Homo sapiens: one gene and its partner. The protein of the gene in region 1 purifies or fractionates together with the protein of each later gene. This does not show direct contact. Each region holds a gene or a part of one and is shown on either strand. Other genes may lie near its edges.

What was found.
Region 2: the proteins of CST7 (region 1) and CTSC purify together in Homo sapiens (co-immunoprecipitation; one study listed by IntAct). This does not show direct contact.

The regions. Positions count from the first base shown.
Region 1 is NC_000020.11:24,954,727-24,960,362, reverse strand, and holds the end of CST7 (cystatin-F precursor), read right to left. Parts: intron 3,077-5,636; coding exon 2,904-3,076; intron 1,436-2,903; coding exon 1,319-1,435; intron 729-1,318; coding exon 651-728; 3' UTR 435-650; downstream 1-434. UniProt on the Homo sapiens protein: Inhibits papain and cathepsin L but with affinities lower than other cystatins. May play a role in immune regulation through inhibition of a unique target in the hematopoietic system.
Region 2 is NC_000011.10:88,295,347-88,299,736, forward strand, and holds part of CTSC (dipeptidyl peptidase 1 isoform a preproprotein), read right to left. Parts: intron 919-4,390; coding exon 787-918; intron 1-786. UniProt on the Homo sapiens protein: Thiol protease. Has dipeptidylpeptidase activity. Active against a broad range of dipeptide substrates composed of both polar and hydrophobic amino acids. Proline cannot occupy the P1 position and arginine cannot occupy the P2 position of the substrate.

The DNA.
Region 1 (5,636 bases):
AGTTGTGGCCCTGCTCCTCCTGGTGCGGACAGCTCACCTGTTCTGGGGCTTTGGCCTTCGGGGGGTTATAGCTAGCAGCTCAGGCTGGCCAGCCCCCCAGAGGAAGTAACTTCAACTTGTCAGACCCCTTGGTAAGGGAGATCCCTGGTAAGGCTTGCCTCACCTCCCGACTCTCCCGTAAAAGGGCCGGCATGGCTGCTGCTGGCTGTTCATCTTGATTCCCAGTTGTGTTCATCACAACCGGCCAAGGCGCCCAGTGGCCAACAGTGTCCCCACCCACATCTCTGCTGATTATTCAGACCCAGAGCTGTACCCCTGCTCTCCTGGGGGCCTGTAGCCACAGGGGATCATCCCTTAGTTTCACAACTCCCTCCATTGACTCAGTCCCCTGCACCCAGACCCGGAATCTAGGTGGGAAGCCTCAGAAACAGGAGTTAATTTTAGAAGCAAATGTGATCTATTTAATCTGTTAGGAGGTGCTACCATGCTGCCATTCCAGCTGCCCTGCGGTGACCCAGTGGCACTTCACCCGCTCACTCGTCAGAGGCCTGAGAGGGTCTGTGAGGCTGGGTCATGAGGCGGGTGGGAGGGGACAAGGAGCATGCATCCTGGTGTTTGTCATGGCTGTGGTCTTGCTGAAGAGGCGGGGGTCAGTGACAACGGAGAACAGGCACCTCGAAGTGCTGGAGCCAGGGCACGACCCAGACTTCAGAGTAGCAGCTCAGAGTCTGAAACAGAGAAGGGCACACCTGAGAGCTTAGACTTTCCCTGCGGGGAGCCCTCTGCCCGTGGAGGGGTGGTCCTCATGGAGGAGCTCTTCTCCTGCCCCTATTTTTCATTTTGAAAAATTTCAAACCTACAGAAAACTTGAAAGAACGATTTAAGAAAATGTGCTTTTCACCTCTGTAATTGCTAAATGTTGCTGTGTTCCCGTTCTCTTGCTCTCTCTGCAGAGATATGCTATATATGATATACATATGATACATATCATATGTATGTATATGATACATATATAATTTCTGGATTGTTTGAAAGCTTTTCTTACTCTAACCCTCTCCACTCGCACCCCAGGACGCTCTTCCAGAGCTGTGTCTCCGCCTCTGGGACGGGAGGATGTCATCTGAGGAGCTCCTGGCACAGGCTCTACCTCCTGTTCTCCCGGATCCTCAGTCGTGCGGGAGTCTGGGAGGCCTGGCTTCCTCAGGGGTGAGGTTTGGGGCGCTGCGTTAGAGACGTGGTGACGGTGTTTTTCACAGTCCTGGGAGGGAGTGGGCTGGGGAAGAGAGGGCACATCTGAGAGAAGGGCCTGCTGCTTTACCTGCTTCAAGGTGTGGTTGGTTTGGAAGTCACAGTCATCCAGACGCAGGTGCTGGTTTTTCTTGCAGGTAGTTCTGCCAATTTCCACCTCCAGCATATATTTCAGGCCTTTCACTATCTGGAGGGAGCAAAGGGACTGGGTTACTGGGCACAGGGGAGGGAGGGCAGGCTTCTCCACTAGGAAGCAGGGCCTCAAGACAGTGGTGCAGGTGCCCACCGAGGAGAAGGGAAGTGGGCCAGCATCTTGGGGCAATGCTTCGGGCTTACGGCAGAGCCTGCAGACCCCTCCCACTCCCCTCCCTGCCCCGTGCTGGGTTTGTGCCCCTTCCTGAGACAGATGTCTCCTTTCTGGCCAGAGCTCTGCACTCAGGAGGGACGTCACACTAGGTCTCCTGCATGCCCTGCTGGGCCCGCCCTGCAGCCCTCACTCCAGCCCCATGATGGCTGTTTCTTGTGGCCTCTGTGTCAGGCCTGGGGTCTGCGGGCTTCCCCTCTCCATTCCTGGGGTCGGGAGTTTTGAGTTTCTGGACAGCCCTTCTCCACTTGGATATGGCAGCCGCCTTGTTCATTCTCATTTGTGGTCTTAGAGGAGTTGAAGAAAAATTCCTCAGGTTTTAGTCTCAGCTTTAGGGGAATTACGTTGTCCCCAATATCACCAAGCTAGAGAGAGACAACCTCCAAGTCCCCTCCCAGAGAACCCCAAGGACTCAGAACCAGGGCATCCCACTGGCCTACCCGGAGAAGGAGGGAGGGCCTGCATCACCCAGGGAAGATCCCCTGTCCCTGAGGCCAGGCTGCAGAGCGAGGACCCTGGCTACACACCCACGATTCTCATATGAAAACATGCTGTCCTTCACAAGTTTGCAATTGTCAAAAATAATTAGGTTATAAAAATCACCCCTCCCTGTGACCCAGCATAACCATGAACACTGTGAAGACTGCCTTGGACAGGGCTGCTTCTGCCCCTTACAGGCACCAGCACACGGTGGTGGGTGTCATCCACAGCCTGCATCCCACATTAGCAAGTGGGTGTTCTCAGGACACAGACAAGGGTCCTCTAGGAGGGAGGGTGCTGAGCGGGCGCAGTAGGAATGAGTCAGGGAAAGGGCAGTGGCTTGGGCAGAGCTCTTGGACTCTGGGATGTGAGTGAGCACTCCAGGGGGAAAGTGGCAAAGACACCTCTGGGCTGCAGGGCACGTGAGGGGTGAGGCCGGGTGAGGACCCTGGTCCCAGCAGGGGCAGCTCCTCGGACAGCGGCTTTCTCCCCCATCAGCCTTGGCGCCTGCCTCAGGAGCCCCATTAGGGCCCTGGCACCTCCTTACCCCATGCCTAGTAGGCTCTGGGCCAGGGGCCTGGTAACCACCCAGGAGCCGTGTGCTTTGTGTAACCTTTGCGCTTGGCCCTGGGGGATGCTGGCCTCAGCTGCTGCTGTCCACTCCCACCCCTTGTGCATCTGCTTTCTGCTCAGAGCTCTGCACTCAGCAGGGACTTCACATTATATCCGCCCTGCTCTCCTAGGTGTCGCGTTGTAGCAGCTCGGCTTCCTAGGGGTGTCCGTGATATGTGACCAGAACCCAGACCGTTACCTGAACTAGGGCCCTTGTGATGCGGGACTCCTTGAACAAGAACATGTCGTTCGTGCAGTTGTTGAACTTTTCAACACTGTATCTGGCTGCTTGGAGGACTCCTGGGTCATTGGTCTTTATTGTTTTAGGAAATCCTGGCTTCACACGTGAGTTAAGGTCCTGGGAACAAGTATCTGAAAGAGACAAAGAGCCAGACAAGAACACTGATGTTAGTGGGGCCTTCAGTCCAGGTGTCACGCCTCATGCCTCTGTGATGCTCAGTTCTCTGCTGGCGTGTGTGTCCTGGCCCTACCCACCCCTCACCTGCTCCCCCTCTTACCTACCCCTGTCACCTGTCCCTGCTTACCTGCCCCCACCCTACCCACCCCTAACCTGCCCCCCTCACCTGCCCCCTCACCTGTTCTCCCTCACCTGCCCCCTCTCACCTGCTCCCCTCACCTGCCCCCCTCACCTGCCCCCTCACCTGTCCCCCCCGACACCCCTGCAGTGCATTTATTGCTCCATTTTCAGAGCTGAGGACCAGGTGCCAGGGGGTGCAATGAACCTGTCCCCCACTTTCAGAACCCAGGGTTATTTCCAACGTAAGTGTTAAAAGCGGAACATGTCCCACAGGTGAGATCCTCAGTACGGGATGTAGCCTTAGGATGTAGGGAAAGTCAACCCCAGCCTGGCCCTCTGGGCGGTAGATGGAGGTAGTGCCTCCCACCGGAAGGAGATGGCGCCGTCCTCGTCTCAAGACCTTTTGCCCGCCTGGCTCTCAGTCTCAGGCCCAGCCCCCAGGAGGGCACCCCTCCTGGCAGCCTGCAGCACTTGGTACCCCTGCGCTGCCTCCTGACTTTCCAGGGACAGTCTTTTTCACTCCTATGAGTGACAGTGCACTGTGTCCCCAAGCTTCGTTGGGGTCGGGGAGGCCTGCCCTTCCTGTACCAAGGAGGGCTATATTTGGATAAAAGATGGGGAAGCAGCATCGGGGGCCTCCCCCACAGTCATGTCCCCTAGTATCTGTGCCTGAGGCTGCAGGACGTGCGTCTTTGTGCCTGCTATGGACTGGATGGAAAGCTGGGCCCCAGGGTGTTGAGGGCAGGGTGATTGGGGAATGGGAGGGGACAGGCTTCATAGCTGGGCACTGCAGGGAGGCCTTGCCAGGACGTCAGTGTCAACTCAGAGCGAGGGCCCCAGAGGAGGCCATTCCCACTGCTGTGTGAGGTCTGCAAGAGGCCTTTCCTGGGTCCTGGATGTCTGTGGGTGCACACCAGACCCCACCAAGGGTAGACAGGATGACGAGGTTTCTGGTCACCACGTGGCACCCCCAGGCTGGGTGGTGCAGCGCCGGGAGTGGGCAGAGAAGCATGGGACTGGAAGTTCTGTGGCCTTGGGATTGTCGCCCCATCCCGGTAAAGAGTCTCCATTGTGAAGGGAGGCCACCTGGCAAATGGCTGTCCCGTGGTTGGTTCTGGGCCAGAAGGTGAGCTTCATGGCTGGGCTTTGGATGACTGTGCCTGCCTTGTGCTTTAGCAGCCCAGGGAGCCTGGCCTTCCATCCCAAAAAAGCAGCGCAGTGCTGGTGCCCCACCCCATAGAGAATGCTGGCCACGTGCTGGTCCTGTGTGCTGGTGGATAGCTGTGTCCTGCGCTGGCATGCCCTGGGACTGTCCTTCACACTAATTAGTGTCACACACATCCCCCCTGAAACTGCTGCAGCCTTTGCTTAAGAAGACTTTAGGTGGCTCACGTCTGTAATCCCAGCACTTTGGGAGGCCGAGGCGGGCAGATCACGAGGTCAGGAGATCGAGGCCATCCTGGCAAACACGGTGAAACCTGGTCTCTACTAAAAATACAAAAAATTAGCTGGACATGGTGGCGGGCACCTGTAGTCCCAGGTACTCGGGAGGATGAGGCAGGAGAATGGCGTGAACCCGGGAGGCGGAGCTTGCAGTGAGCCGAGATCGCGCCACTGCACTCCAGCCTGGGCAACAGAGCGAGACTCCGTCTCAGAAAAAAAAAAAAAAAAAAAGACTTTAGGCCTCTGAAGATGGAATAGAAACCGCTCTGTTCCTGAGCACCAGGGGCTGAGCTTGGCCATCTAGGGGAGGTCCTGGAACCTGCATTTCCCCAGGCTCTCAGGTGACTCTGACACTGGTGTTGGCAGTGAGGGGTCCCTTGGGACCTGCAGTGTTACCATCAGGAAGGAGGGGTCCCCAGAGCCAAAGGCAGCTCCTTCTGGTCCTTGTGCTTGTTGATGACAGGAAGTTGAATGTGGCTTTTAGTTAAAACAAAAAACTGTTCTGGAAACCAGCTTGGTTTCAGCTCATCACTGTCATCTGAACAGCAGAGAAAGAGACACGTGTATGGAAGGGGTAGCATGTGTTCAGTGTATTTTTGCTGTCAGATTAGCGTTTTTTTTTGTTGTTGTTGTTGTTGTTTTGCTTTCTTTCCTCACATTACATTAATATGGCTGTCCATTGTTTTCTTTGTAAAAACTACATTTTATGGCTTTTTCTGACTATAAACTTACCTATTTTTGGTAGAAATTTGAAAAATACAGAGGAGCATAACAAAAAATAATTATTTTTAATATCTTAAAGCTAACCACTATTAACTTTTTTAAAAAATAAAATGTATTTACTTTTGCTTGAGATTAACAGAATTTTAAAAATGAAGTGAAACTCAGTTTACGCTGAACTTCAAATAAATTTCCCTTCCAAGCTCATGACGTTAGTTCCTAAAAGATTGT
Region 2 (4,390 bases), on another chromosome or scaffold:
CATCACATACAGCCTGATCTGAAAGCCTAAGTACAGATTTTTTTTTTTTCATAACAGGGCCTCACTCCGTTTGCCCAGGCTGGAGTGCAGTGGCATGATATCGGCTCACTGCAGCCTTGACCTCCTGGGCTCAGGTGATTCTTACACCTCCGCCTCCTGAATAGCTGGGACTACAAGCACACACCACCACGCCCAGCTAATTTTTTGTATTTTTAATAGAGAAGGGGTTTCGCCGTGTTGCCCAGGCTGGTCTCAAACTCTAGGACTCAAGAGATTCACCCATCTCAGCCTCCCAAAGTGATAGGGTTATAGGCATAAGCCACTGTGCCCAGCCCTAAGTACAGAATTTTAAAATTCTCCCAGAGAGAAACCAGTGTTAGTATAGTTTTAATAAAAGTTGGGTTTTGGAGACGATGATTAGAAGTGAAACTCCAATGCTAAAAGCTGTGAGACCTTCAAATTATTAGAAAAATTTCTTAGTTCCTGTTCCCCGCCCATAAATAGGGATTATACTTACTACTTCTCAGAGTTTTGAGCATTGTTAGGCAATATATGTAACAAGCAGAGCTCACTCAATATATAGTAACTATTGACATTTTGCTGGATGGTACAGTAAATTCCATGAGCAATCATCCATTAATAAGTGATAGGGCCAGACTTGCACTCAGATTTTCTGACTATAGACACTGCGCTCTCTCTACTGCATCATCCTTTTGCCTTTGCCAACAACAGCCAGCTGCACACAGGTAAATAGCTCATAAATGGTGTCTGAAATGCAACACTTACCTTGAGCATACTGGCTACAAGACACAACCTCCTGAGGGCTTAGGATTGGGGTCTGAGAATTGTTGGTTAGTATACGGATTCTCGCTTCTAGCATACCCATAGAAGCAAATGAGTAGCAGCTGCCACAGGATGCTGGCGATGAAAAAAAGACACATAATCCAAGAGACATCTGAAGCCTCACAGAGAATCATGCAAAAACCTTAGTGAATCACATACATTAATGTTTATACTGAATGTTGTTGTTTATAAGAATCAGCACAATAAGAAGACTCAACTAACAAGCATTGTTGAGCTTATTAAGGCAATCATTAAGATTTCATCCTTTTTCATCAAAAGGCAAACATTAGTACATGGGACTTTCTTTGAGAATATTTTAGAAACTAAAAAAACCCCTCATAATTTCTGAGAAGCTTTTGGCAATATTCTTGATAATGATGAAAGGATTTATGTCTACAACGTTCAAAGCCATCAGGTTGGGTGATGGAGGAATACATGTGAGCTGTGGAGGAATACACGTGAGCTGAGCTTTCAAATATCTCTAATGCAATGAGATGAAGGTTTATGTCCCTCTAAAATCATGTTAAAACCCCAATCCCAAAAGTGATGGTCTTAGGAGGTGGGGCCTTTGGGATTAGTGACCTAATACAAAAGGCTCCAGAGAGAACTCTCATCCCTTCTACCATGTGAAGTTATAGAGAGAAGTCAGCCTGTGAGTCCTATTTCCTTTTAACTACTGCCATTTCTGATGTTCCCTAAAATTCTCCCCCTAAAAATCTCAGATTGACCATATTGTACACTGTTTTGCTACTGAGAGATTATCTAAATTATGAAGATTAGAAAAGCACTTGGAAGAAGGACCTGTGAATTCATCTAGTGTACAACCTGCTCACTTGATAGATAACGTGTAACGGTGGCTCAGAAAGAAGCAATGAGCTGTCCAAGGACACACAGCTAATAGATAGCAGGGACAAGTGCCTTACTGTCTCCTAAGGCAGGATTAGTGTCCTTTTCAATTTATGGGTCTGTGTCTACTTTAACAAATATTCAGATTTTCTCTCCCTGTCTCGTAGTCACTAGACAGGGCAAAATTAGCTTATATCTTTTGTTTTCAAAACCATGCAGATGATACTATCCATAGGACCCATCCTTCAAATGACGGAATGTCAAAGAACATTGTACATTGTACACTGAACATATAACTGTGTTCAGCAGTACCTTCCAACAGTGAAGAACACACTGAACTAGGAGTGAGGATACTTTTTTTTTCCTCCTTTCTTGTTTTGCCCCTCATTAGCTGTGCAACACTGGACAACTTACAAATACACCTTGGCGCCTCATGAAAGGAAACCAATGTCAAAGAAATAACACAACCCAGGAGAGTCTGGAAAAGGTCCCTTTCTGACCACCCAGCTTTCTTGGCCCATAGCAGCCATGGAAATAATCTCTCTCAGTACTGGTCATTAAACTCCCATTATCTGACCATCGATCACTGTGGGAGGCACAGGCTGCAAGTGCATTCAAGGGCTCTGAATGTGTTCTATTTACAGAGCAATCACAGGAACAAGGGAAGAAGATAAACTTCATCAAGCCCCTGACCTGTAAGAATGTGTCAGCTACCAAGGTAATTAATGCCTCATTTCAACAGCCAAGGCCAATCTGATTCTAAAAGAGCCATTTATCTCTTAAGAATACTGCAATGCAATAAAGAATAAGAAGTGAATCTAGCCCAGCCAGAGCTCTGCAGTAATCAAATTTCTACAATCTCAAATAGATAGTGTGATCTTCATATGGTATAACTATGTTCAGCAGCACCTTCTAACAGTGAAGAACACACTGAACTAGGAGTCGGGAGTCAGGATTCTTTTTTTTCCCCTCCTCTCTTGTTTTGCCTATCATTAGTTGTGCAACACTGGGCACTTGACCTTTTGACACTGTTTTTTTCTTTTTAATCTTTTGTGTAAAATGAATTGGGTGGAGCAGTTTAAGGTCTCTGCCTTCCTGCTCAAATAATATAAATAGCATTTTGAAACAAGACTTAAATGGACTAGACTTTACGCATTATGAAAACACTCTGTATTTCCTAATTAATGTGACCCAGGAGAGACACTTCCCTTCTCTCTTAAAAATACAATAATAAATAAAAACAGCATAGCTGGGAGAAGAACAAAGAAAGCCCATTCTGCCGTATTTCTAAGCTTCTCTTCCCTCTCATACCTCAAAGTATTAATAAATCTAGGTATAAGGCTTGTTCTTAAATCTGTTTTCAAGTGTAAAGGTAAAACCTCATTTGTCCTCCCACTATTTCTTTTTTCTTTAATTTCAATTTGCTCTCTGACTACAGAAAAGCTGTGAATTCCCTTAATTGCAGCTAATTCTGAATTCTGGGTTATACAGAACACTGGTATTGGCAAAGTTGGTGGGAATTTTCAAGTAGCCCAATTAGCAGGAAGAGAAAATACTTTTTTCCCCAACTTACAGTATAGAATACCAAAAGAAAGTCAAAAGAGGAAACTTTAAGTACATTATTTTCTCAAGTACCTGACAAGATACTGTAGATGAGGGATCAATTCAAAGCAATTAATCCATCAAAGCCCTCTGTTTTGAAATTGCCATTTCTCTGTACAAATCATACTTATAACAGTCAAAGAATAAAGAACATGGGAGAAAATAACAGCTTTTACCAAGCTATATGAAAACCAATGTCAAATAATTTGGCTTTAGAAAGTCGAATTTCCTTTCCCTGAATTATTATCTCATATAACTTGTCAATCATTTCTTTTGGGAAGGGTTTGCTAAACTCTTCTACCTTCTCTTATGTTACCAATGAATTTAAAAAATGCTTTATTAAAGTAGTTATCATGCTTTACTTTAATGTTTTGCTTGTATGTCTTGCTAAACTGTAAATCACTAGGACAAGGACTATGTCATATTAGTCTTCATTTCCTCTGCCATTAAAAAAATCCTAATATATTTTAGATGTTCTGGTAACAACACCAGAAGCAACACTATAGTATCAGTAGCTCAAATTATATCATGCCAATGCTATCATGTGCCAGGACCTCAATGATAAAGTCAACACATAATATGCACTATGAATTAATCCTCTCAGGCACAAAAAATCTATTTGGTGATAGCATAACTTGCAATCTCTTAACATGGACCCTTCAATTTCACTTTCCATTCATTTCTCAATTATCTTCAAATTTATCTTATTTCCAATCCCACTTTCCAAAGAAGCCCTCCCCAGGAAATTGAGAAGGTAGGGAAAGATTTCAGGACCTATACTTTCTTTAGAGCTGAAGAGCCCAGAATAACTGGTAGAAAAGCAAAGAGACGAGACCCTTGGTGTCAGATGAAAAACAGAAATGTTGCTGACTGGCTGTTATAAGACCCACTTGGGGCTCTCAACATTCAGAACACTGCAAGAATTCAGTGAGATGGGAGCTTGGAGGGCAAGTGATGAAAATGAGACACGGCAGAGACTGATTATCACTAAAAGTTTAGGAAAGGGAAACAACAGTTTATCTTTGGGTACTATAAATTTATAATCCTCCCAGGAGACACTAATCAGAATGTTTCCAGACAGCAAATACTAAACCTATTT